2 linked regions of the Homo sapiens genome follow. The protein of the gene in region 1 interacts with the protein of each later gene in a pairwise test. Each region holds a gene or a part of one and is shown in the gene's direction. Other genes may lie near its edges. The genes, in order: SYNDIG1 and SLC41A1.

Region 1 (15,473 bases):
TCCACAGCCAGTCTTGTTTTCTCAGTATGGTATACAGCACACCTTCATTCATCACTCCTGCTGCCAGTCTTGTTTTCTCTGTATGGTATACACTCCTCCCTCAGTGGTCAGTCCACAGCCAGTCTTGTTTTCCCTGTATGGTATACAGCACACCTTCATTCATAACTCCTGCTGCCAGTCTTGTTTTCTCGGTATGGTATACACTCCTCCTTCAGTGATCAGAGATGGTCAGAGATGACCACAGGTAATGGCTGTCAGATGGGGCTCCAGATGGCACTGCTGGTGGGTTCATCGGGGATCCCTGCTGTCCCACATCCCATGAGACAGAGAGGTCATTGGCAAGATGAAAGAGGGATGCCTGATCCTAGAGCCTCATGAGGCTGGAAGTGTACTTGAGGGGGTACACTTTGGGAGGTGTTTCTGCCGTCACCTGTGGTTCCTTGACTTTCTGCTGTCATCTGTGGTTCCTTGACATCCTAGGATGTGAAGGAGGAGGAGGAATTCCAGATGAGAATTCCAATTGAGATGATCAGTGGTCAGCGCACAGTCTTCTTTTCTCGGTATGGTGTGCACTTCTCCTTCCTATCCAGATGATTTTAAACAAGTCCCAGACAGTGTATCTTTTATTTCATCTGTAAATACTTTAGCATGAATCTCCACATAGATAGCTCTTCTTTTTATGTTTTATTTTAGTTCAGTTTAATTGAGTTTGTCTAATTTTTTATTATGTTAGCATAAAATCTACAATCTTAACAATTTTTAAGTGTACAGTTCGGTGGTATTAAGTACACTTATAATGTGTAACCATCACCACCATCTATCTACCATCTATCTCTATATCCCTTTTCATTCCATACCTATTAAATAATAACTCCTCACACCACTCCCATCCCCTGGAAACCACACTTTTGATTACTTTTGAGTACTTTTGATGACTCTAAGTACCTCATATTGATGGAATCATACAGCATATGTCTTTATGTGACTAGCTTATTTCACTTAGAGTAATGTCCTCAAGGTCCATCCATGCTGTGGCCTATGTGAGAATTCCCTTCCTTTTTTAAGACTGAGCAATACTCCATTGAATGTAGATAGCACATTTTGCTTATCCATTCATCCACAGACACTTGAGATGCTTTCAGATTTCAACTATTATGAATAGTGCTGCTATGAACATGGCATGCAAGTATCTCCTCAAGACCCTGTTTTCAACTCCTTTTGGTATATATCCAGAAGTGGAATTTCTGGACCATACGGTAATTCTATTTTTAATTATTTGAGGAACTGCCATACTGTTTTCCAAAGCGACTGCACTGTTTTTCATTCCCACCAGCAGTGCACAAGGATTCCAATTTTTTCACATCCTCACCAACACTTGTTATTTTCCGTTTTTTTTTTTAACAGTAGCCATCCCAGTGAGTATGAGGTCATATCTCATATGTAGTTTTGATTTTCATTTCCCATTATTAGTGATGTTGAGCATCTTTTCCTGGGCTTATTGGCCATCTGTATATCTTCTTTGGAGAAATTTCTATTCAAGACCTTTGCCAGTTTTTGAATCAGATTATTTTTTGTTGTTGAGTTTTAACCATTCTCTATATATCTTGGGTATTAATTCCTTATTAGATATATGATTTGCAAATGTTTTCTCCCATTCTGTGGCTTACTTTCTTACTCTGTTGATATTGTCTATTGATGCACAAAAATATCTAAATTGTTATGAAGTCCAACTTGTTTTTTCTTTTGTTGCCTCTGCCTTTGGTGTCACATCCAAGAAATCATTGACAAATCCAATGTCATGAAGCTTTTGCCCTGTTTTCTTCTAAGAGTTTTATGGTTTTAGATTTTACATTTAGGTGATTGATTTATTTGGGATTGGTTTTTGAATATGGTGTTAGGTAAGGGTTCAACTTCATTCTTTTGCATGTGGATATCCAATTTTTTAGCACCATTTGTTGAAAAAAAATGTCCTTTCCCTATTGAATGGTGTTGGCACCCTTGTTAAAAATCATTTGATTGTATAAGCAAGGGTTTATTTCTGGGCTCTCTATTTTATTCACTTGGTCTATATGTGTGTATTTATGCCATATCACACTGTTTTGATTCTAGTGCCATTGTAGTAAGTCTTAAAATCAGGAGGTGTGAGTACTCCTACTTTGTTCTAAGTCCAGCCTGAGCTCCTTGAGATTCCATATGAATGTTAGAATGGGTTTTTCTGTTTCTGCAGACAACATTACTGGGATTTTGCTACTGATCGCACTGAATCTATAGATAACTTTGGGTAGTACTGACATCCTAGCAATGTTAAGGTTCCCAGTGCATGAATATGGAATGTCTTCCCATTTATTTGTGTCTTCTTTAATTTTTTTCAGCAGTGTTTTGTTTGTTTGTTTGTTTGTTTGTTTGTTTTTGAGATGGAGTCTTGCTCTGTCACCCAGGCTGGAGTCCAGTGGCACGATCTCAGCTCACTGCAACCTCTGCCTCCTGTGTTCAAGAAATTCTTCTGCCTCGGCCTCATGAGTAGCTGGGATTACAGGCGCCCACCACCACGCCCAGCTAATTTTTGTATTTTTGGTAGAAATAGGGTTTCACCATGATGTTGGCCAGGCTGGTTTCGAACTCCTGACCTCAAGTCATCCACCCACTTCAGCCTCCCAAAGTACTGAGATTACAGGCATGACCCACCATGCCCTGCCTCAGCAATGTTTTGATGACTTCTTTGTATGAGTCCTTCACCTCATTGGTTCAATTAATTCTGAAGTATTGTGTTCTTTTTGTTGCTATTGTAAATGAATTTTTAAAAAATTTCTTTTCAGATTCTTCATTGTTGGTATATAGAAATGCAGCTGATTTTTTGTGTATTAACTTTGTATCCTGCTACTTTGCTAACTTCATTTATTAGTTCTAATAGATTTTTTTGTGGAATCTTTAGGGTTTTCTATATGTGAGATCATACTTCTTCCTTTCCAATTAAGTGCCTTTTATTTCTTTTTCTTGCCTAATTTCTCTGGCTACAGTTTTTAGTACAGTGTTCAATAAAAGTGGGAAAAGTGGGCATCTTTGCCTTGTTCTTGATGTTACAGGTGCTTTCACCATTGAGTATGATGTTCACTGTGGATTTTTCAAATATAGCTTTTATTTTGTTGAGGTAATTTCTTTCTATTCCTAGTTTGTTTCATGTTTTTATCATGAAAAGGAAAAGCATCAATGCTTTTCCAGAAATGCTTAGTAGAAAGGCATTAAATTCTTTTTCTATGTCAATAGAGATAATTACGTATTTTTTGTCTTTCATTCTGTTAATGTGGTGTATTACAATGATTGATTTTCATGATTTTAACCCTCCTTGCATTCCAGAAATAAATCTCACTTGATCATGGTATATGATTCCTTTAATATGCCGCTTAATTCAGTTTAGTAGTATTTTGTTGGGAGTTTTACATCAGTGTTCATAAGGCATATGGGTCTGTAATGTTCCTATGGTGTCTTTTCTGGCTTTGGTGTCAGGGTAATGCTGACCTCATGGAATGACTTAGGAAGTGCTCACTTCTCTTCAGTTTTTTTGGAAAAGTTTGAGAAGGACTGGTATTAGTTCTTTAAATGTTTGCTACAATTCACCACTGAAGCCATTTTGTAGAAAATCTCTATCTATTGCCATAAAACCCTAAAACTCTTTGACTAAGACAGAAAAAATCAGAGCTGAAAGGGACCTGAAAACTTTCCTTGCTCAATCACCCCATTAATAGTTCCACTTTCATAAGCCACTTGCCAACAGTCAGATATTTAGTAGCAAAACTAGGGCTGAATCTCTGGCCTCGTGACTTTTAGTAAAAAGTGTTCTTTATACCGTGACAGTCTCCAAGTAAAAAAATGTATATGTGTTTATGTAGAATATAAAACTTGTATAGAATATGTTGTATACCTACTTTCTGACTTATATTTTTCTTTCACAACCCCTCAATTTTCCCACTCACCTGATATTCACCACGACTCATGGTTAGCTGTGCATGTTAGTAACTCCCCAGGAGAGTTCTTACAATAGTGTTATAGAAAGAGATTAAGAACTAGGGACTCAAATGCAAGGCCACAGAGGCCCCTCTTCATCCTGTCTCCTCCTCCAGCTGCCTTCCTCTATAAGGAAGCAGGTGGAGCATGATTGGCCAGTGATGCATTTAAGGCGGCTTCCTCTGCCAAGCTCAAAACCAGACTCCCAGTCTTATAAGATGATGACACGGGGAACTCAGTGGTTGATGCAGCCCAGAAAGTGTTTGGTCAAGAGAAGGGAGCATCCTAGACATAGCAGAGACTGCTTATGCAGAAATAAAGAGTCAGGCAGGAGGCTTTCATCTCTGTAGCTACTGGTTCTGAGTATCATCGACTGAGAAAAAAATAAATAAAAAATCCCACAAAAGTTATAAAGGGAATTGGAAGAACAGTAGCACTGTCCTGGGGCAAGACTCCGGAGTGCATTGGTACAGAGAGCCATGTGGATAACCCTAGATGGCAGCCTCATTAGAGGCATTCTCTCTCCTCCCATCAACCCAGTTTCATCTCTGAGCGGATGAACCCAGGCCCAGGGAAAGGCTCTGAGCAGGTAGGAGTGGGTACCAGCAAACGTGGAAGGAAATGAGCTAATGGGAATTATGAAGCAAAGGCAATATATATGACAAACCAGTCTGTGTTGAAAGAGATATCGAAGGATGCGGAAATGACAAAATAAAATTCCACTAATTTTGATCCCTTTCATTCATACTTAGTCATAATTTATGATACTCAAAATTGAAAAAATTCACTTCAATAAGAAAAAAAAGTTGTTCTTTTAAAAAAATAAATTGTTTGACATAATTTGAGTACATTTTAAAATTTAGTAAATAATCAGTTGTAAAATCAACTTGTTCAGCAGGCCAAAATGTGCACTGTACACTGTAGCCCAGCACCTCCTCAGCTTTAATGTGCAGACTCATCAGCTGGGATCGTGTTAAAATGCAGATTCTGATTTAGTAGGTGCAGGTGCTACTCAAGATTCTGCATTTCCAACAAGCTCCCAGCTGGTGCTGATGCTTCTGGTTCTCAGCAAATTCTGAGTGGCCAACTATAGAGAGCACCCTAGGAGACCAAGCTGTGCCTCTCTCAAGATGCCTCAGTAGCAGATTCGTGTTTGGGACTTGACACCTCAAGATCATCACTAAGTAGAGATTATTGCAATCACATAATTTCCTGCTTGAATGAACAGCCATGTACCTGGGAAGAGCTAATCGCCTTTACAGATTTGCAGTTCTGTTTTCCTATGGACTTGTCAGATGCTAATGCGATTGGGTTTACCTGTGGGTTTCAGGATGTCTGCTAGCAATCAAAGGTTCCTCTAGGCTGCAAGGGAGCCAATTCCTGCAGTCTCCTTCATTTGGAAGCAGAGACTTTATAGAGATTCAGGTAATCAATTTCTGCTAACTCTGGCTAGCCGCCCCCACAGACCCTTTTTAACATTCACTGAATAGGTAGGACTGCATTTTATCTAACTCTCACAGTTACTATGCGTTTATCAGCTGGCTGGTACAGTCTGAAACAATGTGGGTCTGGGTGATTAGCTTGTTTTCAAGTGTGATTCTCTTGTCTCATCTCTGTTTTCTCCTCCTCCAGGAGAAATGGCTTCCCTGAGGCAAGTGTAACCTACATTCCCAGCCCACCAGCCTGACGCCCAGCCAGGGAGAGAGTACCATGGATGGCATCATTGAACAGAAGAGCATGCTGGTGCACAGTAAAATCAGTGATGCTGGCAAGAGGAATGGTTTAATTAACACCAGAAACTTGATGGCCGAGAGCAGAGATGGTCTGGTGTCTGTTTACCCAGCGCCCCAGTACCAGAGCCACCGGGTGGGGGCCAGCACAGTGCCGGCCAGCCTGGACAGCAGCAGGAGTGAGCCGATGCAGCAGCTGCTGGACCCCAACACCCTGCAGCAGTCAGTGGAGTCCCGCTACCGGCCCAACATCATCCTCTATTCAGAGGGCGTGCTGCGCTCCTGGGGGGACGGTGTGGCCGCCGACTGCTGCGAGACCACCTTCATCGAGGACCGGTCGCCCACCAAAGACAGCCTCGAGTACCCGGATGGGAAGTTCATTGACCTCTCAGCTGATGACATAAAAATCCACACCCTGTCCTACGATGTGGAGGAGGAGGAGGAGTTCCAGGAGCTGGAGGTCACAGGATGTGTTTGTCAGAGGCCCTCTAAGAATGTGTGATGGGGATTCTAGGGAGGGCAGGAGCCATGAATGCCTGGCAAAAGTTAGGGAATGAAACTAGTGTGCAAAAATGCAGAAACCAAAGGCAGTCTTGGTGCCCTTCACTCTTGAGTGCTTATGGAAGATAGAAGGAGAGGAAAGACTTAGATTAACAGAAACCCAGGGGCGCTTCACCGGTGATTCTGGTATGAGATGACCCCAGGTAATGGCTGCAGATGGCAGTGCTGGTGGGTTCATCGGTTTTCCCTGCTCTCCCGCATCCCATGAGACAGAGAGGTCATTGACAAGATGAGAGAGGGACACCTGATCCTAGAGCCACATGAGGCTGGAAATATACTTGACAGGGGACACTTTGGGAGGTGCTTCTACTGTCACCTGTGGTTCCTTGACTTTGCATTCCACAGTTACTACTGAGAGATTGTTGATAGAGCTGAACCGTGCTGGAAGAAAGTGTAGGTACTGATAGCCTGAAGGGAAGATAAGTTGACTTCTTAGATGACTCGCTTCTTTAATGGACTGGAGGGCAGGTGACAGCATTTGAATTACATGCACAGAGATGTACACACTGCACGTTGGATATAGTGTGGTAGGCACAGTGGTTGCTGAGTGTGTGGCACATTGTCCCCCCAGGACAGCACCGGTGAGAGGGTGAGAGCAGCTGCTGCAGGCCATGGACTAGCGGTTTGCTGCCCATGCCTCCCAAGTCATTCCACTGCAGTGAGGCCAGGGGTGTTTTCCCAGGACGCGATGTCAGGGAAACACGTGCCAGGCTTTCCGTCAGTTTGGTGGGGAAGGAAACCGCCGAGCAGGTCCAACCTTCAGAGGCAGTGTGTGGCCAAAAGGGGAAGGGATGTCTGTTTTTCACTAAGGTAGGCGAGAACATTTTTGTAGGTGGAGAGGAAATGTTCAGAATGGAAAATTCAGGATCGTGGCCAGCAGCTGGGGAGTGGTCTTGGGGAGGCAGGAGCTGAACTCCAAGCATGTATGTGTGAGAGCTGGCCTCTCAGAAGAAGTCCACATGCTGGCCTGGGAGAGAAGAGAAGGGTGGGGTAAGGGAAAGTTTGAAGGGCTCTGGGTTGAAGAGGAAGAAAAGGAGGGGTTCGTGTTGGCTGAGCATCAGCACAGCCAGAGAAGCTCCTGGGGTGTGAGGAGATTGCAGACAGTCTAGAGCAATGAACTGGGGGAAGTGCCCATTCTAGAAAAGACTCCTGGAGAAACTGCCCAGCTGCAGTATGAGTTTGTGTGAAGATCTGGTCAGACCCAGGGCTCTGTGACTTTCTGCAGCCATGTGGGACCATCTTTAGCAGGTGAGGCTCCCTTGGCAAGGTGCACTCTGCCTGGAAGGTGGAGGAGGCAGGAGAAAGCAATAGGGAGGAAGTTTGGAGCAGAATCAGACCCACAACCATGGGACCCCACACTTGATAGAAAGGCCGGAGAAATTGCAAGGGAATGACAGGCCAAGGAGACCAGAGGATCAGGATTGGAGAGACCCCATTGAGAACCAGGAGCTGAGAGATCCAGCGTTAGTCAGGAGGGAGGATTAGAAATGGAGAGGGAAACTTTGGTGCAACTCCAGCCGGTGGAGCCCGGGAAGCCCACTGGCAGGGAGTGGAGAGTCGTGGCATGGAAGAGGACCAAGACGTGATGCCTGGGCATCTGCGCAGGCCCCAATGCCCTCTGGTGACACCTGTGAAGGGAGGGCACTCACGCTGCAGCTGTGGAAAGTTGGGAGCATGCTTGGCTTCTGTTCAGAAGCCTCTGCCCTGTCTACTAAGTTTTCCAAGATCTGAGGGCTTTGCTGACAGCAAAGCGTAAATGCTGCCCGACTCGCATGGAGTGGAATTAGAGAGGCAGATGCACGAAAATGCAGCCCCAGGAGTTATGGGAATGGAATACCCCATCAGCTCTGAAGAGGGTCTGGGGCCCTGAGCTCAATGCGGGGTTCAGAAGTCATCACACAGGCAGGAGCCCTCCCCCGGCTGAGTCTTGAGGATGAGTAAGAGGAGGCTTGAGGGGAGCTTAAATAAAAGCTAGGAATGGGTGGGGGCAGACACAGACTTGTCTGTCTTAGTAGGTCCAAGGCTCTGACAAGTAGTATAGACTTCTGGGGAGGTAACCTTTCCCACCCAGTCCTGCTTCTCTGATCTAGCAGCAGAAGTGGAAGCCCACCAGAAACAATTCTTTTAATAATACAGCAATAAGAATCTTTAGTCATAATAACGGTGCCTACTCTGTATTAATATTTCTAGTGACTTTTGAATATAACGTAAGATGGAGCATGTTGGCATTTATACTAAAGTAACATCGATGAAACAGCAAGTTGTTTACTTAGGCACTTTAGTGAGACTTTCTGGTCGGCTTCCAAGGAGCTCACCTGGACCAAGAAATGGCCCCTTCCACAGGCTCTGAGCAGAAGGAATGGAGACACATTATGGCTGCTGCTGCTTCTACATGCGGCTCAGGATGCCAAGGAGGATTTCAGAGCCTCACCACGGTGGTTAACTTCGTCCTTTTTCTCTGAAAACAAAGATTTTCTCAGAAACATTCTTACAGTATAGCTATGGTGCTTTTCATTCCCTTCTTCGGTAATTAACAAAATACTAATGACTGGTTAGAAGTGTCATTGAACATGCAGTAGCTGTTCTTTGGTTTACTGTTTTCTCCATTCCATTAAATAATAAAGGGTCATGTATTGGTTAGCATTTGCTGCATAACAAATCACCCCCAAAACACAGTGCCTTAACAACTCTTTCTTCAGCTTATGATTTCTGAGGGTCGGCAATTGAGCTGGGCTCAGCTGGGTGATTGTTCTGCTGGTCTCACCTGGGCTCACTCACTTGTCCATAGCTAGCTGTGATAGGCTGGGAAGCCAGCCTCTGGTGGGCTGTTGGCTGCAGTGACAGAGGTAACTGCATCACCCAGCTGTCACCCATCCTGTCCCAGGCTTCATTTTGCGGCAGCCAGAGAGGTGGGGCCCACTTTGTGAGGGCTTGTCAAGTCTTTGCCTGTGTCCTGCATGTTACTATCTCATTGACCAGAGCAGGTCCCACAGCCAAGCTCAGTCAGTGTGGGAGAGACTGCTTAGGGTCACAATATAGGGAAGTGATAACAAATTGGGTGCCAGTACTGCAACCACAGAGCCAAAAACCATAGACTTTTGGCATCATTTTTTTTTTCAGATGGTCTAACTGAACAGAATGACAACTACTGAAACAAAAGAACAGTGAATACTGATCTGAGCTCTTTCCAGAAGGCAGTTCTACTCAGCCAAAAAAGAAAAAAAAATGTGATTTTTAACTTCTTTGAGTATTGTATAGCTTCACTTGGTTTATAGCAAATGGATACTGTTTCCCAAATAATGCCGTTTTCAAAAAGCCATTGCCCTGGTTCAGAATGGGGCCCCCTCATTGCCCTTGTTCAGAGGGGGCCACCTCATTGCCCTTGTTCAGGGCCCCTCCCATTGCCCTGGTTCAGAGTGGGGCCTTCTCATTGTCCTGGGTCAGAGCAGGGCCCCCTCATTGCCCTGGTTCAGAGCAGGGCCCCTCGTTTCCCTGGTTCTGAGCGGGGCTCCCTTGCTGGAGCTCCTGGGCACTGGGTGGCTGGCTGTGTTTTCCCCAATCACTTTCCCAAGACAGGTGCATCCCTGGCATTTATGAAGGAGCCTCTCCAGGTCCGAAGAGGTCGGCCTGTCTGACATATGTTTGCAAGGGCATGTGGAGCGTTCAGTTTGCCTTCGAGGTTGTGGTAGTAACAAGAACAGGTTCTATGGCTAACTTTGAGAATATTTATGGGAGGTTCTCAACTATTCGGCAAGTGTTTATGATCTGTCCTGCTCCACCTTAAGTCGCCAAGTAGAGCATGGCTTGACATTAGACAGGTAGATGTAGGGGACCTCTGGGGCTTTGCGGGAGTGCAGAGGTGCCATGCCGCTCATTATCTAGTGCCACTGCGCTCAGGGTGACAAGACAGGCATCCTGTGGGGGTGCCCTCAGGGCATCCTGGGTAGTGATAATTGGGCCTGATGTCCGACAGCCCAGGCCTCTTCCCAGGTATGTGAACACTGCTTCATCCACTTCCCAGCCAGTAGCTAAAAACTGCTGTCTCTGGGAATACCAGCAGTGGGAAGCCACTTCTCCTTTCACACAAATAAACTCAGAGAGACTTCAGGGACAAGTAATGAAGTAGGTCTACAAAATATACAATTTGAGTTTACAGCCATGAAATGAAGTGGATGGAGTCCAGGTGCAGAGGCCTGACCACCCTCCTGCCCTTAGAGATGGTGACCAGATGTTGAATGGCACTTACCTGTGGCAATGCAAAACCTCTCAGACCTGAAGTACATGACGGTCACCACCTAGAAGCGGTGCCCATGGGGGCTGAGCCTTTTCTTCACTGAAGGAAGAAGGGGGAAGGGAACGCTCATCGATGGAGCACCTTTTCTGCCACGCCCTCCAAGTGCACTTGGCCATCGAATCCTCGAAGCGCTTGGGGATGGGTCATGGTGCTGTCCTCATCCTACACGTGGAGAGACAGAAACTTGGGGTGTTTCCAAGATCACACACGTGGCTCTGCTGTCAGCCCTTGGATCTGAGACAGATCTCCTGACTTTAGACTCTGTCTCCTCATGATGATGCTGTTCTTTCTACATTAGGGGGAAAAATGTGTTCCAGTAAACTTCTGTTTCAGCATTATGCCAGAGTCCAAGGACAAAGCAGGAAGAGACGGCACCAGGACTTCACTTCTGTGAACTCTCCGCCAAGCTTTCCAAGGCCTTCCAGTCTGTCTTCCCATGTAAAAACTTGAAAGCTGTTGGAGGACACAGAATTCTATAACTGCAATAGAGCACTTTACATATACCTCAGTCATAAGTATGGAAAGAGGGGCGAGGACTCAACACACATGTGAAGAAAACCCAAAAGCATGAATGAGACAGAACAACAACAAATAGAACAGTTGACCCAGAGGAAAGAGAAAGAGTTCAGAAAATAATAAACAGCATTTTGAAAATTATTTTTAGTATCTCCAGAGAGATTTGAGGTGCTGCTGATTTGGGTGGAAGGAAATTTGGGGGTTTTGTTTTGCTCATTTGTTTGTTTACCTCATAGCACTGGCCAGAACCTCAAATACATTGTTTAGTGTGAGTGAACGAACATCCTTGCCTTGCTCCTGATCTTAGGGGGAGCTTTTAGCTTTCATGATGAAAGGTGATGTTTTTGTAGTTCTTTGTAGACACTCATAATCAGGTATAGGAAGTTCCCTTTGTCACTACTTTGTTGAAGAGGTTTTTTATTTTATTTTTTATTTAATTTTATTTTTTAATAGACAAATAAATGGGATATTCATATTCATGGGGTATATAGTGATGTTTTGATACATGTAACATATGGTGATCAGATCAGGGTAATTAGCATATTCATTATCTCAAACTTTGATCATTGCTTTGTGTTGGGAGCATTCAATAACCTCCTCTTAGCTATTTGAAACTGCATAATATATTATTTTTCAACTGTTTTCATGCTACAGTGCTGTAGAACACTGGAAGTTATTCATATCTAGCTGTAATTTTGTATGTTTTAATACATCTCTTCCTATCTCTCCCTTCCTCCTACTCTGCCCACTCTCTACTATTCTTCCTTCTACTTTTACTTCTATAAAATTAACTCCTTTTAGCTTCCACGAGTGGAACATGCAATGCTTAACTTTCCCTCCTGACTTATTTCATTTAACATAATGTCCTCCAGTTTCATCCATATTTGCTGCAAATGACATAATTTCATTATTTTTTTATGGCTGAATAGTATCCTGTGGTGTTGAAATGGGAGAGTTCCCTGATTCCCCTTGCAGGACGTGGGGTGGGTGTGGTTCACCTGTTCTGTTGCTGCTCAAACCCCTTGCAGGACTGGAGCATGCAGAAGGGCAGGTGCAGAGGCTGGGGCGAGTGCTTTATGCTCTGGCCTTGCAGTAGTGTCTAGGGGTGGGTGACTGCAACCCCACTGTTACAAAGCTCTTTCAGCTTTGCTGTCCACAGACGGCTTGAATACTAACAGGCTCAATGGGCCCTTTGCCTTTTCGCAAGGACAGAGGGCTGGATCCAGAGCTGTTGCCCAGCATCCTGGAAAAATCAGGTCACATACGGGCTTGAAGGATGAATGTGAAGTTTTTTTGAGTGGTAGAGGTGGTTTTCAGTGGGATGGATGTGGAGCCGGGAAGGATACTGGAGTGGGAAGGTGATCCTCCCCTGGACTTGGGCCACCCAGTGGCTGGACTCCTCTCTGACCATCCCCAACCAAACTCCTCTCGGCATTCAGATGTTCCTCCTCTTCTCCCTTTCTCTGCCATGTTGTTCTGCCATCTGTCTATTTGCTGGTCTTCTGGCTTGCTAGTCTGCTTCTGGGTCCTGGGTTTCAGGGTTTATATGGGTGTAGGCATGCGGGCCAAAATACAACTTTTTGGGTACAAAAACAGGAATGCCTTTTCTCACTTAGGGCCACAGATATCCAGGCTTGAGGATGGGGCTTTGCCAGGAAACTGCCCTCTTCTACCCAGTATTTCCCTGATTCCTGTCCTATCAGTGTACAACTACCCCATTTTCTTTATCCATTTATCTGTTTGTTGTTGGAGACCTAGGTTAATCCCATATCTTGGATATTGCGAATAGCACTGCAACAAACGCATGGTGTAGATGTCTCTCTAATATACTGATTTCGTTTCCTTTGGATAAATGCCAAGTAGTGGGGTTGCTGGATTGTATGGTAGTTCTATTTGTGGTTTTTCTAGGGAGTTGCATATGGGTGTTCAATTCGTCAGGTACTACTTAGGTAATCATGTGTGGTGTTTCTTTGTTGTCCTTTATTTTTTCATCCTTTAATCATGTGGTATATTACGTTAACTGCTTTTTTTTTTTTTTGAGACGGAGTCTCTCTCTGTCGCCCAGGCTGGAGTGCAGTGGCGCGATCTTGGCTCACTGCAAGCTCTGCCTCCCGGGTTCACACCATTCTCCTGCCTCAGCCTCCCGAGTAGCTGGGACTACAGGCGCCCGCCACCATGCCCGGCTAATTTTTTTTGTATTTTTAGTAGATACGGGGTTTCACTGTGTTAGCCAGGATGGTCTCGATCTCCTGACCTCGTGATCTGCCCGCCTCGGCCTCCCAAAGTGCTGGGATTACAGGTGTGAGCCACTGCGCCCAGCCTACATTAACTGCTTTGCAGATAACAGACCATCCTTGCATTTGGGGGTAAATCCCACTTTGTCGTGGTTTATAATCCTCTTTAAGTGTCACTGGATCTTTTCTAATCCTTGGATAAGGATTTCTGTGCCTATATTCATGAGGGATGTTGATCTGCAGTTTTCTCTTCTTGTGCCATCTTTTCTGGGCTCTAGTATGAAGGTAATATTGGCTGCATAGAATAAGTTGGGAATTATTTCTCTCTTTATTTTCTGAAAGACTCTGTTTAGTATTGGTATGATTTCTTTTTGTTTGTTAGAACTCACCAGTGAAGGCATTTGGGCCTGGCCTTTTCTTTGTGGGAAGATTTTCAATTACTGAACTGATTCTATTACTTTACTAGTTTAAGTCTCTTGTTTTAAAGAAAATCTGAAGATCGTCCTTTATTCTTGTCCCAGTTTTAGTATTGTGACACCTAATTTGTTGGCATGAAGTTGTTCATCATATTCCATTTAAATCCTTTTACTTTCTGTATGGTTGGTAATATTTACTCTTTCATGCCTCATTTTAGTAATTTAAGTTTCTCTATTTCTTTCTTGGTCAGTCTAGATAGAAATTGATCATTTTTTGGATCTTTTCAAATAGCTGACTTCTGGTTCCATTGATTTTTCTCTCGTTATTTAGTTTTCCATTTTATTAATTTTTTACTCAGATATTTATGACATCCTGCCCTCTGTTTCCTTTGGCTTAAATTTGTTCTTTTTTACCTATTTTTTTTTTTAGGCGTGAGCTGGGATTACTTATTTGACATTTGTTTCTTCTTATAATGTATATTCAAGGCTATCACTTTCTTTCAAACACTGTTTTAACTGTGTCCTGTAAATTTTGATTTGTTGTGTTTTAATTTTTATATAGTTGAAAATACTTCTGTAGCCATTGTGATTTTTTATTTTTCTAATGAGTTATTTATTAATGTGTTGTTTAATTTCCAAATATTCAGGGATTTTGTTGTTTCCTATTATTTATTCTTAATTAAATCTCATTAAGGTTGAAGGACATAGTTTGTATAATTTCTCTTTTAAATTGATTGAGACTTGATATGTGGCTTAGTGTCTGATATGTTCTGGGGAATATGCCATGTGAACAAGGAAAGAATGAGTGTTCTGTCCTGCAAAGTGTTTTATACAGATTCGCAAGGTCGTGTGAGTTAATTCCTGTTCGTGTCTCCTGTTCTTTCTGTTTGTCTGCCTAGTTGTCACAATTAGGAGTGGAGTATCAGAAATATTTACTTTTAGGGAATTGTCTATTTCTTTCTTTTATTTTGTCAGTGTTTACTTCATGTGTTTTGGGGCTCCGTTGTTAAGAGTGTGTACATTTATAATTGTTATATCTTGCTGAACTGTTGGCCATTTTATTATAAAGCTTCTGTCACTGAAACACCAGGGGTTCCATCTAGAACCTGCTGCTCCACACACAGAAAGCCAATCACTGAGACGATTATTGCCAAGGAAGAGGGCTTTTTTAAAAAATTATTATTATACTTTAAGTTTTAGGGTACATGTGCACAATGTGCAGGTTAGTTACATATGTATACATGTGCCATGCTGGTGTGCTGCACCCATTAACTCGTCATTTAGCATTAGGTATATCACCTAATGCTATCCCTCCCCCATCCCCTCACCCCACAACAGTCCCCAGAGTGTGATGTTCCCCTTCCTGTGTCCATGTGTTCTCATTGTTCAATTCCCACCTATGAGTGAGAACATGAGATGTTTGTTTTTTTTTGTCCTTGCAATAGTTTACTGAGAATGATGATTTCCAATTTCATCCATGTCCCTACAAAGGACATGAACTCATCATTTTTTATGGCTGCATAGTATTGCATGGTGTATATGTGCCACATTTTCTTAATCCAGTCTATCATTGTTGGACATTTGGGTTGGTTCCAAGTCTTTGCTATTGTGAATAGTGCTGCAATAAACATACATATGCATGTGTCTTTATAGCAGCATGACTTATAATCCTTTGGGTATATACCCGGTAATGGGATGGCTGGGTCAAATGGTATTTCTA
Region 2 (16,327 bases), on another chromosome or scaffold:
ATTCCTCTGGCTGAACTCTCCCTATTCACACCTCTCCCGCTGTCTGCCAGCATTTCTTTCCAGCCCCACCCCCAGCTTCTGGGTTCAGCTTTTTTCCCTTTTCTCTGAGTTTGGGAACAACCAGGTCTCTAATGATCATAGAGCAACTGGGAGAAGAGTGAACAGCAGACCCTCTCCTCCTCTAGTCTCACTACACTCTTCCAGCTGTAGAAAAAAAGCTCCAGAGGGGGTAGGAAGCCCATGAGAGGGAACTGCTACAAATCCTGGCTCCGAGAACGCATGAATTACAGCCCAGTGGTCCCTGAAGGCTTCTCGAGAGAGCAGTTCAAAGTCCCCAGCCTGGCTGGAACAACAGCAGCCTCAAGACTGGCTGGGGCTTGGCGCAGTAGCTCTCGCCTTTAATCCCAGCACTTTGGGAGGTGGAGGCAGGAGGATCGCTTGAGGGCAGGAGTTTGAGACTAGCCTGAGTGATACAGTGAGACCATCATCTCAAAAAACAAAAGACTCTGGATGGGATGAGGCAACAAATCGGTGACTTTCCGCCACTCCGTCCCCATCCATCTAGACCACTTCCCAAATCCCCCAATGAAAGAGCTCCAACAGATAACCACAGGTACATCCTACACCCCTATCAAGGACTTAGCTCAAGCTTTTTACACCTCACTACCTAAGGCGAGAAGGAAGACAAAATATTCATAAGCAAAGAGAATGGGAACAGAAAGTTTGGCTGGAATCCCTTGATTGTGAATCTGGGTTGCTAAAAACATGGCCATCCTAAACCCAGTATTCCTTTTATCCAAGGGAGATAATAGGAGACAAAGTTCCTACTTGAGAGCTGAACATTTCATTAAATTTTTTTTTGAAAATTCAAATCTAATCAAAGACGGTTGGTTTTTGTTGTTGTTGTTTCTTGAGAGGGGGTCTTGCTCTGTCACCCAGGATGGAGTGCAGTGGCAAGATCATGACTCACTGCAGCCTCAACTTCCGAGGCTTAAGAGATCCTCCCATTTCAGCCTCCTGAATAGCTAGGACCACAGGTGCACGTCACCACACCTGGCTATTTTTTTTTCTATTTTTTTGTAGAGATAGGGTCTCACTGTGTTGCTAAGACTGGTCTTAAACTCCTGGGCTCAAGTGATCCTCCCACTTTGGGCCTCCCAAAGTGCTGAGATTACAGGTGTTAGCCACTGCACCTGGCCTAATGAAATATTTTTATAAAAACAAACCTACTTGCAATTCTAGCATTCAGTGTCCATCTAATGTCAATAAAAAGAACCAGTATCATGTTTAACATGTTGTATCTAGAGGTACAAATATAAAAATTTAAGGATAATATAAATTATTTATTACTACAAAATGTTCCTTAGCTCCCACGTGCAATGTTGCAAACACTACACTAATTCATGGGTACCTCCAGAACCAGAAACTGGAACATAAAACAGAGCAAGAAAATGGACACTGAGCACTACTGGTAGATAGTATTTCATGCAAGAATTCACTACACAGCTGAGCGCAGTGGCTCACGCCTATAATCCCAGCACTTTGGGAGGCTGAGGCAGGTGGATCACCTGTGGTCAGAGTTTGAGACCAGCCTCGCCAACATGGCAAGACCGTCTCTACTAAAAATACAAAAATTAGCTGGGCTTGGTGGCAGGCACCTGTAATTCCAGCAACTTGGGAGGCTGAGGCAGGAGAATCGCTTGAACCCAGGAGGCAGAGGTTGCAGTGAGCTGAGATGACCACTGCACTCCAGCCTGGGCGGCAGAGCAAGACTCCGTCTCAAAAAAAAAAAAAAATCCACTACAGACAGGGCGCAGTGGCTCATGCTTGTAATCCCAGCACTTTGGGAGGTTGAGGCGGGTGAATCACTTGAGGTCAGGAATTTGAGACCAGCCTGACCAACATGGTGAAACCCCGTCTCTACTAAAAATACAAAAATTAGCTGGGTGTGGTGGCATGCGCCTGTAATCCCAGCTACTCAGGAGGCTGAGGCACGGGAATTGCTTGAACCGGGGAGGCAGAGGTTCAAGCAGTGTGCAGTGTGCAGTGTGCTGAGATCGCACCACTGCGCCCCAGCCTGGGCAATAGAGGGAGACTCTGTCTCAGAAAAAAGGAATCCACTACAGCCATGCTACCTAAGAGGAAGCATTTGACAAGTTAATTTTCTTTTCTCTTAGCTAAGCACTTTGACAGCTCAACTCCTGCCTATACTCCAAAACCACAGTGGCCTCCAAAGTTCACACTGATACAACCCACAAACCTTCAGGGCATCCAGACACAGTTACCTTTTTCTTTTTTAAAGACATAAAGTGTGTTTGCTTAGGTAGCACATACACTAAAATTGGAACAATACAAATTTCCAATTAAAACAACACAATCGCACAAGGATAACACAAAAATATGTGAAGCACTCCATATTTTTAATGTATACATATTTCAAAACATCATGTACACAATAAATGCATACAGTGTTTATCTATCAACTTAAATAAATGAGACAGAACAAGATATATAAAGAAGTGACCTCCGGAGCCTGAACTGTATTAGACTCAGTAATGTGTGTTCAGTGTTACTGGTTGTTCTGTGCCAGTGCTGAGCACAGAATCCCAAGGGACAGAAGCATCTCTGTGTTTTTAATGGATTTATTTCCTTTGTGGTTATATTATATGATGCCTTCTAAAGCATTAAGTTCGAGGCAGGGGGCTTTCTTGCCTGGGTCTGAGAGATAAGGTGTTATTTTATATACCACATGGTGCCTGGTCTGGAAAATCAGGAAAGCCTCTGGTGAGGAAGTCATGACTGAAGCTGAGACTTCAAAGTTGAGTAAGAGTTAGCTAGGCAAAGCACAGAATGGGAAAAAATATTTGCAAACTTTGCATCCAACAAAGGTCTAATATTCAGAATCTATAAGGAACTGAAACAATTGAAAAAGCAAAAAACAAATAACCCGATTAAAAAATGTGCAAAAGACATAAACAGACACTCTCCAAAAGAAGACATACAAGCAGCCAACAAACTTATGAAAAAAATGCTCCACATCACTAATCATCAGAGAAATGCAAATCAAAACCACAGTGTGATACCATCACACACCAACCAGAATGGCAGTTATTAAAAAGTCAAAAAACAACAGATGTTGACGAGGCTACAGAGAAGGGAAGACTTACACATTCTTTGTGGGAATGTAAATTAGTTCAGCCACTGTGGAAAGCAGTTTGGAGATTTCTCAAAGAACTTAAAACAGAACTACCATTTGACCCAGCAATCCCACTACTGGATATGCATCCAAAAGAAAACAAATCATTCTGCCAAAAAGACGCGTGCACTCACATGTTCATCACACCACTATTCACAATAGCAAAGACATGGAATCAACCTAGGTGCCCATCAGTGGTGGTTTGGATAAAGAAAATGTACATATACACCATGTAATATTATGCAGCCATAAAAAAAAAAAACAAAATCGTGTCCTTTGTAGCAACATGGATGCAGCCAGAGGCCATTGTCCTAAGCAAGTTAACACAGGAACAGAAAACCAAATAGCACATGTGCTCACTTACAAGTTTGGGTAGTCATGGACATAAAGATGGCAACAATAGACACTGGGGACTGTTGGAGGGGAGCAAGGAAAGGGGAACAAGGTCGAAAAACTAACTGTTGAGTACTATGCTCAGTACCTGGGTAACAAGATCATTCATACCTCAAACGTCAGCATCACACAGTATACCCAGTTAACAAACCTGCACAGGTACCCCTGAGTCTAAAACAAAACTTGAAAAACAAAAACAAATGAAAATATATACCCCTAAAAAGGCTTGCACACATTGCATATAGCAGCCTTATTTGTAATAGCCCCAAACTGGAAACAACTGAAATGTCCATCAACAGGTGAATGAATAAACAAACAGGTGCATCCATATGATGGAACACTACTCAACAGCAGAAAGGAACAACCTGTTGATACACATAACATGGATAAATCTCAGAATAAGTATGCTGAATGAGAGAAATCAGACAAAAAAGATATATACTACATGATTCCATTCATATGAAATTCTAGAAATGAAAAACATCTGTAGTGACAGACGGCAGGTGGCCCAACGCATGGGTTGAGAGAGAAAGATTAAAAGAAGCAGGAAGAAACACAGGGGTCATGGATATACTCTTTATCTTGATTGTAGTGATGTTTTACTGATGTATACACATGTCAAAACATCAAATTGTACACCTTAAATCTGTGCTGTTTATTGCATATTATACCTCAAAAAAACTCTTAAATTTAAAAACAAAACAAACAAACAAAAAAACAGTGAGTTAGCTAGGCAAAGAGTTGGGGGACAAGGGAGAGAATTGTGCCAGACAGGGAATACAGTAGACAAAGACTATAAGGCAAATGAGAGCCTGAAACCTTCATGAAATGAAAGGAGTTGGCCAGGCACAGTGGCTCATGCCTGTAATCCTGGCACTTTGGGAGGCCAAGGCAGAGGATCACCTGAGGTCGGGAGCTGAAGACCAGCCTGACCAACATGGAAAAACCCCATCTCTACTAAACATACAAAATTAGCCAGGCGTGGTGGCGAATGCCTGTAATCCCAGCTACTCAGGAGGCTGAGGCAGGAGAATCGCTTTTACCCGGGAGGCGGAGGTTGCGATGGGCCGAGATTGCGCCATTGCACTCCAGCCTGGGCAACAAGAGTGAAACTCTGGCTAAAGAAAAGAAAAGAAAAGAAAAGAAGTCCAGTTGGGGCCTTGTAAATTAGGAGTGGAATTGTGGGCTTTGACTTAGGACAGTAAGAAAGAAAGTATAGCTAAGAGGTCCTTCTTTCCTTCTGTTCTTTTGTTCCTTTTTCTACTTTCTTTTTAATACTTATACATTATTTATTATATGCCAGGCACTGTTCTAAGTCACATGTGTGTGTGTATGCATGTGTATATATATATATAATCATTTAATCCTAATAATTACCCTATGAAGTAGGCAAATTAGAAGGTTACTTAGGTTAGTCATTTGGGAAATGCAAATCAAAATCACAGTGGGATACCACTTCACATCCACTAGGTTGGCCATAATCCAAAATGTAAAATAATAAATGTTGGTGAGGATGTGGAGAAACTGGAACCCTTGTACCTTGCTGGCGGGAATGTAAAATGGTGCAGCAGCTATCGAAAGCAGTTTAGTGTTTCTTCAAAAAGTTAAACATAGGCTGGGCATGGTGGTGTGTACCTGTCATCCTGGCTACTTGAGAGGCTGAGGCAGGAGGATGGCTTGAGCTCAAGAGTTCAAGTTCAACCTAGGTTAAAAAAAAAAAAAAAAAAGGCCAGGCACAGTGGCTCACACCTGTAATCCCAGCACTTTGGGAGGCCAAGGCGGGCAGATCACCTGAGGTCAGGAGTTGGAGGCCAGCCTTGCTAACATGGTGAAACCCTGTCTCTACTAAAAATACAAAAAATTAGCCAGGCATGGTGGTGCATGCCTGTAATCCCAGCTACTCCCAGGAGGCTGAGGCAGGAGAATTACCTGAACCCAGGAGGCAGAGGTTGCAGTGAGCCAAGATCATACCATTGCACCCCAGCTTGGGCAACAAGAGTGAAACTCCATCTCAAAAAAAAAAAAAAGTAAACAGAATTGCCATATCACCCAACAATGGTATATGGTCAAAAGAAATTAAACAAAAGATATTCAAATGAAGCTTATATATGAATGTTCACAGAGGACTATTCACAATCAAAAAAGGTGAAAACAACCCAAATGTCCATCCATGGATGAATGGATAAACAAAATGTGTTGTATCCATACAATGGGATATTATTTATCCATAAAAAGGAATGAAGTATTGATCTATGCTACGATGTGGTTGAACCTTGAAAACATCTGGATAGAAGAATATTTAAGGGCAAAAAATAAAACAACAACAACAAAATTAAGTTAAGTAAAAAAACCCATTCGCAGAAAGTTACATATTGCATGGTTCCATGTATATGACATATCCAAAATAGGGAAATCTATAGAGACAAAAACTGACTAGTGGTTGACTAAGCAGGGAGAGGAGGGGAGGGAAGGGGAGAGTGGGTACTGACTGCTAATGGATACAGGATTTCTTTTTGGGGTGATGAAAATGTCTTAAAACTAGACAGAGTGATGGTTGTTCAACACTATCAATATAATAAACACCAATGAATAGTACATTTTAAAATGGTTAAATTCATGTTATGTGAATTTTACCTCAAAAAATAAATAAATCCAAAAAAAAAGTTATTTAGGAGGTAGAGTCGATGGATGGCAAATGGTGATTGATGGGTGGTGGGCGAGGAGGCGGGGAAGTAGAGGAAGGAGTCAAGAATGACTCCCAGATGGCTGACAAACAAATGGGCGAGGGAATCCTCTTTTCTGGGATGGAGAAGACAGAATAAGAAATAGACATCTGGGAGAGAACTAGCGCATTTTGGATATCACAAGTTGGAAGTGCTGAGACATCCAAGTTCAGAGCTCAGAAGAGAAGTCTAAGACAAAGATATTTGGGCATCATGAACAGAGCATCATAAATGGACACTATGCAAGTGAATGAGACTCCATATGTAACGGTCTGACAGAGAAAGAAGGCCCAGATGTGTAAATTACAAGGTGTCAGCAAACATCACAGAAATTTTAAAATATAAGGTATTTCAAAATTAATATAAATTTTAAAATATAAAGTCTCTGTGTTCAAGGACTTTGTGATCAAGCATAAAACAATACGTTCATGTCAAAGAAGCCTTCAGCTCTGTAACATATCACCAAAGCCTACCATTTCATCTTTCATTTAACACGTCCCTACGTGCATCCAACCACATGTTGAAGAACCTGCTGTTCCTTGAAAATGCCAAATTCTCCCTTGCCTTCCTGCCATTTCACTCTGTTCTCTCTAACTGGAATAATTCTTTCCCATTTCCAATTCTTTTAGGCATATACTTAGGAATGAAATTGCTCAGTGATATGGTAATTCTGTGTTTAACCTTCTGAAGAAACATCAAACTGTTTCCTATAGCAGCTGCACCACATTATATTCTCACCAGCAAATGGACAAGGTTCCAATTTCTCCACACTCTCACCAACACTTGTCATTTTCTGTTATTTTCTCTCTTTTTTTTTTATGGCCAACCTACTGGATATGAAGTGGTATCCCATTGTGGTTTTGATTTGCAATTCTCTAACAACTAACCTAAATAACTTTTAAATCTATTTACCATTCTCCAACCCACTGACCTCATTTTCCACCTGATATATTGCAACAGCCTACCTCCTAGGGTAATTATTAGGATTAAATGAGTTTGCATATAAACCCACACAGTCAGATTCAATCAAAGCACCTCCATGTCTTTGAAGACTTCCTGAGCCTTGCCTTCCTGTGACAAAATATACCTTTGTCACAGTGTTTCCTCCTGTGACAAAGGTATATTTTTGTTAAAGCTCCCCAGGAGATTCTAATATGCAGCCAGGACTGAGAACCACCAGACTGGGGCAGTTTCCCAACCCAGTAGGATCATGGGAGTCACCTGGGGCACTTATTTAAAAGGGTAGGTTTCCTGGCCCAGCACCAGACGTTTGGAAACAGAATTTCCAGGAAAGAGGCCTGGAAATCTATATTTTAAAAGAAGTTCCCAACAGGTGATTCCTATGACCAGGCCAGTTTAGGAAACCCTGGTCTAGAGGATAATCCTAGAGCAGTAGGCAGTAAACACAGAGGGCAGTTTGAAACTAGGTAATCTGGTTTGCAAGATACAGTCTTTTTGCATCCTGGCTCTTGCAAGATAAAGTTTGCTCATCTTTGGCTTGTGACCCACTGTGGGGTTGCTGCCCCTATTAGCTCCTACCTGCATCTATGTAAGAGACTGTCCATCATTAACCCTTTCCAGGTAGGCATGCCCTCACACTCTGGGAAGTCTAAAATTTCACGTGAGGCCCAGAAAAAGCCTGAGCTGCCCGTTCCAAGTGCCTAATCCCTGTTTATTGGCTGTTTCTCTTTGGTGAGATCTTAACAGTCCTACTGCGTGCAGGGAATGTTCCAAATGCTATATTATCCTAATCCTCTCATCATCTGTGAAGGCTAATGCAACTCCATCTTGGATGCTAATCCACCATGTTGACTTCTGATTAACTCCAGTTCTGGAAATGCCTCTAAGATTTCTATTTTATCTACTATTCCTTGGTAAGACCATATACTTATCATAAATCCTGCTCTTAGGTTAAAACAACTGACCATAAATCCTGCCCTTAGGGAACTTCACATAGCATTCTCGCCTTTCCCTACAATTGTCCTACACATTCCTTCCCTGTAAGGTATAGGTATTCCTTCCTTATAAGGTATTCAAGCCCTGGTCTTACTGCTGTCCGGGATATAGACAGGGCTTCTGTTCGCAAGTCCCTATTAAATGCTTCTTTCAAGAAACCAGATTTGTCAGCCTCTTTGGCCTCTGAGCTTTCTCAGACTTTGGGGGTAGGTTTGCATAGAACTGCTCACCATGGAACATATATTGCAGAAAGGGAATTATGTCTCCATTTGATAGACATGGCCCAAGGTCATGTGCCTAATGAATTGCTGAGCCATTCATGGATTCAAATCCATGTGATTACAATGCTGTGGCATATTCCACTCTGCAGCACTGCCTCTCAAAGATTACTTTTCTATCCCCAGTTATAGTTCACCAGACCATTTTGTTTGCTGTCAAGGCTTCCCAGCTATACTCAGTAAATTCAGAGCTGCAGCTCCAAATACCTGGAACCATCCTGCCTAAGGGAATCCCAGGGTGGGTATCCAGGGGGCTTTGGGGAAAGGGAGCTCAGTTATAGAGAAGCAAAGGGAATGATGACAGTGCTGAGCACAGATGGCCACACTTCCCTATCCCACCCCCATCACTACATCCTCCTAAAACTGAATGAAGCCGGAAGGGGATGTCACCTCAGCTCTGGGCAGCAGGAAAGAAGTTGACCTCTGGGAGGGAGGGAGCAGCGGAGGGGTCACAGCAAGGGGAAAAATGGGAGGGGGCACCCTCCCCCACAGAACAAAAGATAGAAAAGTTTCCAGCCACGTCAGGCTAGTCTTACAACTAGCCATGCTGGTTAGGGGGTCCAGGATCTATGGGGCTCTGGAATTTTATGATGTCTCAAGATGAGTATTCAGGTAGTCTATGGAGAAGCCATTGGTAGACAGTACTTGGCCCAGAAGGAAGGCCATGGGGCTAAGAGAACCTCAGGATAGAGGCTAAATTAACCACATATTAGGACAAGTGCCAAGCAAGACTGAAGAATGCTGCCCCACAGAGGACCTTCCCACACAGGCTCCTCCACAGGCCCCTGCCTGTGGAGTGATCAACAATTCCTTTTGCCACAACACTCTTTCCCACCCCACACCCAACATATGCTCATATTCTAAATGAAAACACTGTGCTTGCTATACAAATGATGTTTCATGACAAGTCACCCAGCCTCTCTCCAACTAGATGGCGTCCCCAAGCTCAGTTTATATAAAAATTTGGGGTGCTACTACTAGCTTCTAGTTAAATGCCACATTATGTTCTGAAAGACATGAGGAGGGGATGCTGTGAGTTTGTTAGGGTGGTGCAAGGGGAAATTTCTGTCTCCCAGAGTAACAGGAATCAGTGAGACTCTTGACCAGAGCTGGTCAAGGATGCTGGAGAGAAACACAGCAAGAGAAAAACGCTGTAGAATGCAACAGGCCTATGAAAACAGTGCATGGAGAAGAGGCTGATTCGGTGGTCTTCCATATTCAGGATGGACATTACAGGCCATGAGGAAGTTAAAGCTGATTTTAAAAAAAGAGTTGCCCAATGCAGGTTAGGAATAAGACCCTCCAACCAAAGTTTCAGGGAACCTCCTTTGGAGAAAGAAATGTGTTTCTAGGTGTGGAAGAGCTCTCTTGGCTAACAAGCTCAAAGACTGGGCATGTCTTGAGGCAAGAGAGAGTCCACATGACCTTTGGAGGTTCTTGTCATACAAAGGTCCACAGTGATGCTCAGAGACCCTCACTATCTTTTTGATACCCCCAACTGCGTCTCTCCTTCTGAAGTATCTGGCTGGCCTGCTACTTGCTGGTAGTTCCTGTCTTTTCATCTGTGACCTCCGCTCCCTACATCTGTGCTCATCATTTCACAGACTGTAGCTATTTCTGCTCTTTCAGTAGAGAAGGGCCAGGATGTCTTCCTCTTCCTAAGGTCACAGCTGGCTAAGCCAGAGGAAATCTGCTTCCCCCAGGTCCTCTTGGTGTTTGACTCTAGGGATCAGCACAATACAGAGCAAAGTACCTACATCAGCTTTATCCACCTCATCCATCATTCATTCAACATATTTATTAAGTACCTACTATGTGCCAGGAGCTGGGTTTACACTAGTGATCAAAATAGATATAGAGATTATATTCTTGTTCCAGTGGCCCTGACACTTCAGAAGACACCAAAACCAAGGGCTTTTGTATTTATTTACTCATAGAAATATTTGCAATACCTATAACCAACAAAGGACTCGTATCTGATATTCATAAAGAACTCCTACAAAGTGGTAAGACAGGGCTGGGCTCAGTGGTTCACACCTATAATCCCAGCACTTTGGGAGGCCAAGGCGGGCGGATCACTTGAGGTCAGGAGTTAGAGACCAGCCTGGCCAACATGGTGAAACGCTGTCTCTATCAAAAATACAAAAATTAGCCTGTCATGGTGGCATGTGCCTGTAGTCCCAGCTACTCAGGAGACTGAGGCAGGAGAATCACTTGAACCCAAGAGGTTCCAGCCTAGGCAACAGAGCAAGATACCATCTCAAAAAAAAAAAAAAAAAGTAGTAAGACAGAAGGAATAGAATAATAGAAAATGGACATGATACTTGAACAGATATCCAAGGGTCAAATAAATGCATGGAAAGGTGGTCAACTTCATTGGTTATCAGGATAAAGCAAATTTAAACTACAATACCACTATACACCCACCAGAATGGCTAAATTTTTTAATTTTTCTAGATTGACAATATCAAGTGTTAATGAGAATATAGAGCAACTGGAACACTAAGACGCTGCTGGCAGGAGTGTAAATTAATATGAGCACTTTGAAAAATTGTTTAGTCGCATTTGCTAAAGCTAAAAATATGCATATCCTTTTATGACCCAGTAATTCTATTCCTAGGTATATATCTAGTATAAATATGAACGTAAGTGTACCAAAGGACATGAACAAAAACGTTATCGCAGCCTTATTCATAATAACCCCAAAGTAGGAACAACCAAAATGTCCGTCAACAGAATAACAGATAAATTGTGGTATATTTATTTAATGGCATACCGTACGGCAATGAAAACAAATAAGCTACTGCTACCACAATGTTTTGGATGAGTTTCATAAACATAGTATTGAGTGAGAGAAGCCAGACACAAAATAATACCTACTGAATGGTTCCATGTATATAAAGTTCAGAAGTAAGCAAAACTAACCTGTAGTGTTAGATAAACGTTACTTTTGAGAAGGAGTGTGGCATAGTCACCAGGAGCGGATAGAAGGAGGGTATCTGGGATGCCAATAATGATCTCGTTCTAGATCTGGATGGTGGTCATATGGGGGTGTTCACTGTGTCATCATTTGTTGACCTGTACACTTAGGTTTCGTGTTCCTTTCCTAAATGCCTGGTATATTTCAATTAAAAAAATACACACAGGAGAGGGGAACAGTTTTCGAGTAAGTAAAAACACGGAAGGTAGAAAGGAAATAGGAGAGAGATCAAGATTTTATACACAGGTAGCTGAGCTGTGGCCAGATTAAATGGGGTAGTGGAGGGGAGGGAACTGTTGAATAGAACAGGGCAGAAGTTGCCTCCAGCCCAACCAAAGTTCCTCCAGATACATCAGCCTTAATTCCCCACCCAACCCCACACCCCGTATTCACAAACCTCATCTTTCTGGACAAGTCCCAGCATTTCCTAGACTAGCAGCTACTTCTCCTGGCAGAAAAACCCAGTATTTGAGGCCAAAACTGGGGTCTGAGACACTGATATTTTGCTCTAGTAGGTCCTGTGAGTCTGCAGGCCCTTGATGCAAATGCTCCAGAGCTGATCTGGAATCATCCTGGGGGTACTGGTTTGGGGTGGGTGAGGGGAACAGGGTTTGGTATGTGTATTTGTCATCCTTATCAAAAGGAATGACCTGCTCAGGTTGCTGTGTGTGCTCTTGTGAGCACGTGCCCAAAGCTTCATACACAGCACTGCGATCTCTTCTCCCCAGGCACATCTCCGCTCCAAACCCTATTCAGGGGTCTAGAGCCATGTTCGAATGCCCCCGGGCTACTTTCAGGGAGGAAAAGGACAGGAAGGAACCGTTGGTCACAGGTTCCACTGACAAGAGGGGAAAACTTGGGAGTGGGGGTTCCTTTATGAGGGAGGTCACACCCCCTGCACAAAAACATCCCAAAGAGAACTGGCATTGAGCTTGTGTTGGAGAGGTGGAGATACCCCAGGGAGGAAGTGGCGAAAGGTGAGCATGGGAACACCCCTCTTTGATCCCACAAGGTGCGTCAGGGAAAGTTGGATTTCATTTAGTCCGGGATGGTGACATCTCTCCGCACGCTGCCACCAGGCTCAGTGGGTCAGAGGAAGTGAGGCTCCCCTCCTCTCCGACCTCAGGTGATGCGTGTGCGACCCCAGCCATGGGTCTGACCTCCTTTCGCTCCCGCCCGCCAGTCTCCACCCCTTTCAAGGCCGGGACTTTTTTAAGGCCGGATTCGTCAGGGGTGAGCCATTTGCTCAAGGAACGCGGAATCTGGAGGGAGCCTAAAGTGACGAGCCGGCGGGAGAAGAGCAAGGTAGGGACTGTTCTGTCCGGGTACCAAGTGGGAGGAGGGAGCACGCGGCTGGCTGCTTGAGCCCGGGGGTCAGAGGTGGCTGGCTGGCTGGCTCCACAGGGACGTTTACCGGTCTTCCCGAAGGCCAGAGGCTCCAAGGAAACATCCAGAGGCAGGAGAGGACGCGCACTGTCGCACACGCCTCTCAAAGTCTGCTGGGGCTCCGACGCGGCGCAGCGGGCCCGGGGGCGGTAGCACCACGCAGCGAGCCCGGGCAGCGGGCCCCTCGGACCCCGGGCCGATGGGCGCTGGGACCCGCGCGCTCCAGGCGCATGGAGCCGGCTCCCGGTTCCCGTCACTCCTCCTACTGCGTTTCCCCGGCGCCCCGCCTCCTGGGCACGAAGCGAAGGAAGGGGGCCGGGCCGAGGTTGATCCCGCCCCCTCCCCAGTCCCTGATTGGCTGCTGCTGTTGTCCATCCGAGAATCTATTTTTGATGGAGCGGGGGGGGTGCCACCCAGTCTGCCCCAGATCACGTTTGCCACCGGCAGCCAACCAGTTGGGCCCGAGTCCGCGGGCAAGAAGCGATTGGGGGCGCGTGAGCTCGGCTCCCCGGTCCCCCGTCCGGGTGCCCCCCCGCCGGGCCCGAAGCGATATATCCTGCCCTCCCCGGCCACCTCCCCCGCGTGGAAGCGGAGCGGCGGCCTCGCTGTAACGCAGAAGCGAAATGTAGCGAGCCGGGTGTCGCGGCTGGACGCTCGCCTTGGCTGGGGGTGTGGGGGGGCACGCCGGGGGCCAAGGAGGACTGTCGAGGAGGAGTGATGAGAAGAGGGGGTGCCCTGCACCCCCCGAGACCACGGGCCACGCTGCCACTTGCCAGGCGCCCCCCTTCCTCCCAGGCGAGGGGCAGGTCAGTCCTGTGGGGTCCTGGGGCGGGGAGGGGGTGGTGGAGGGCGGCAGTCCTGGCGCGCAGCGCATTTGCTGAATCTGAGTGGTGGAGAGACTGAGGAGGCCACCCAGTTACTTTCTCTCCCTCCTCGGGGTTGGGGATACTAAAATGGGTCTTTTTTGTCCCCGCCTGGGAGGAGGGGATAGGGCGTCCTGGTTCACTTTTGCTTCTTTCGTCCCAGGGCCTTAGGCCTGTCTGAAGTCTCTTTACAGGGGGAGTGGTGAGGGAGGACTGGCTTCCCCTCCTGGGAGCCCCCTCTCAGGTTCAGTGGCCTGCCAGGAACACAGGAGGGAGGCGGGGGTGTCAGCTTTTAGCGGACTCAGAAACTTTTCTGGCATAGGGGCACTGGACTCAGAGGTTTCCTCCTGGATCTCTGGTGAGGGAGTTTGAAAGAACCACAGTACTGTGTTTAAGGAGATTGGAAAAGGGAGTCCTGGTGGGTGACTGAATTGATAGAGGAAACAGTTCTCCTGGGCCAGTTCCTGGGGTTTGATACCTCCTTTCCTAAACTGAACTTGACTAATTGTGTGTGTTTGGAATACTTAAGGACCTGTTCCTCTTACCTGGTGGAACTCTCTTTAAATTTATTTTTTACGAATAAGAGCTCTTCTGGTGAAATGGAATAGGATGGGAGTCCATCAGGAATTAGGAAGCCTGGGGATTCCTTTAGGCAGAGAAGTGGAGCCATTACAGCTAAAGAGATGCATTTGGAGCAAGTGCATATTGGCTTACGGTGCTTTGGTTTTTGTTTTGGGTTTTTTTTATTGCTACTTTTGTTTTTTTGTTTTTGTTTCTAAGAATTCCACTATATCCAACTCTCAGTAACCCTGGGGAACAGGAGGAGCCTAATTAACTGAAATGCGTGGGTAATAAGCAATCGTTTTATGCTCTGTCCCTTCTAACTGAGATAACTCCCTTGTCCTATCTGACAAGCTCACAGGGCCAAGAGCAGGGGGAGACGGGGAGAGACAGAGGCCTGGATCCGAGTCAGCTGTCTGAGCTCTTTGTAACACTGTTGACTCTCAAGGGCAGGAGTGGGTAGGCCTCTGGCTCTTGGCCTTGGTCTGGCAGGCTTGCCCCACTGCCCAGGGAGTCCTCCTAGCTTTGTTTTGTTTTCTCAGAAGCTAGAACGATCTGGGGTCTGGGGGACTTCACTCAGCAATCAGTTTCTCCCTATTTCTTTGCCCTGTGTGGCTGTCTTTCTGTTGCTGTCTTGTGATGATAAGCAGTCACTTTATACAGGGGTGGCTGTGTGGCAGGGAGTTTGTGACTGAATTTGTAACTGAACCCCACTTAAATAATGCAGGGTTCTTAATGGGCATTCAAGAAGGGGTCTTGCTGAGGACACACCTACCCACCCCCAGTTGCTGAGGAAACAGTGCAGAGGGCTTCTGCACAGCATCTTCCCAATCCCAGGCTGGTCACATCTCATTGCTGGTGACCACGGTGGTGATCCCTCAGGAGGGTTGCTGGTGGGGAGGATGGCGGGGATAGCTCCTGCTGAGCCTCCAGATGGAGCAGTGCAGGACTGAGTAATTTTTGCGGAAAAAGGGAGGCAAATAGCAAACTCTATAGCTATATGATGAACTCCTAACTTCCTTGGGGGGAAATTCTCCCAGTACAAGCTGTCCTTTGCTATAGTGTAATGTTCTTTTTCTTTTCTTTCTCCTTCCCACATAAGGTGTTCCACACTGATTCTCGTGACTTTAAGGACCAGGGATTTGAAGAGGTATTAGCTCTTCCCAGGAAGGGAGGAAGTTTCTGGAAGAGAAGGGAAAGACGGCAGACGCTGCGCTGGGACCAGCAGAGCCTGAGGAGCTGTGGGAAGCTGACAGAGCCCAGCCAAAGGAGCGGGAAGGAGCCGCAGCCCCAGGCTGGCACTGTGTTCTGAAAGATTTGAACTCAAGCTGCTTTTTACGGAAGAGGGGCCACTTCAGAGGGCACCCCAGAATTTGGTTGAGCTCTTCTACTCTGGATGCCCCCTGCTCTGAGGAGCCTGCCACTGAGAACCAAAGAAGATAAGAGGACAGATACTTTTTCTTCAAGCACAGAGCTGGTGGGTTGGAGTCAGGCATCTGCACCCCTAGTGGCTGTCTGGTGAGGAATTTCTTGTTTCTTCCCAGCTTGCGGCTTCAGTGCTTGATGGGGCTGCCTGTTGGTGGATCAGTTTTTGCAGTGCCTGGTAGGAGTGGAGAGCCGTGGGAAGAGGTCCTGCGGCGCCCAAGCCTGGGTTCACCCCAAGACTAAGTTCTTTCCCAAGTTAGAGAAGAAGAGAGAAAGCAAAAAGAAGAGAGGAAAGTTCTCCCTTCCCCTCCTCCGTGCCTGTCATGTCCTCTAAGCCAGAGCCGAAGGACGTCCACCAACTGAACGGGACTGGCCCTTCTGCCTCTCCCTGCTCTTCAGATGGCCCAGGGAGAGAGCCCTTGGCTGGGACCTCAGAGTTCCTGGGGCCTGATGGGGCTGGGGTAGAGGTGGTGATTGAGTCTCGGGCCAACGCCAAGGGGGTTCGGGAGGAGGACGCCCTGCTGGAGAACGGGAGCCAGAGCAACGAAAGTGACGACGTCAGCACA

The links.
Region 2: the proteins of SYNDIG1 (region 1) and SLC41A1 interact in binary tests that used the Homo sapiens proteins (3 or more experiments, as listed by UniProt).

Annotation. Positions count from the first base shown.
Region 1 is NC_000020.11:24,537,386-24,552,858, forward strand, and holds part of SYNDIG1 (synapse differentiation-inducing gene protein 1), read left to right. Parts: intron 1-5,634; 5' UTR 5,635-5,712; coding exon 5,713-6,192; intron 6,193-8,483; coding exon of another isoform or gene 8,484-8,486; exon of another isoform or gene 8,487-11,244; intron 11,245-15,473. UniProt on the Homo sapiens protein: May regulate AMPA receptor content at nascent synapses, and have a role in postsynaptic development and maturation.
Region 2 is NC_000001.11:205,810,199-205,826,525, reverse strand, and holds the start of SLC41A1 (solute carrier family 41 member 1), read left to right. Parts: upstream 1-13,327; 5' UTR 13,328-13,718; intron 13,719-15,436; exon of another isoform or gene 15,437-15,438; 5' UTR 15,439-16,084; coding exon 16,085-16,327. UniProt on the Homo sapiens protein: Na(+)/Mg(2+) ion exchanger that acts as a predominant Mg(2+) efflux system at the plasma membrane.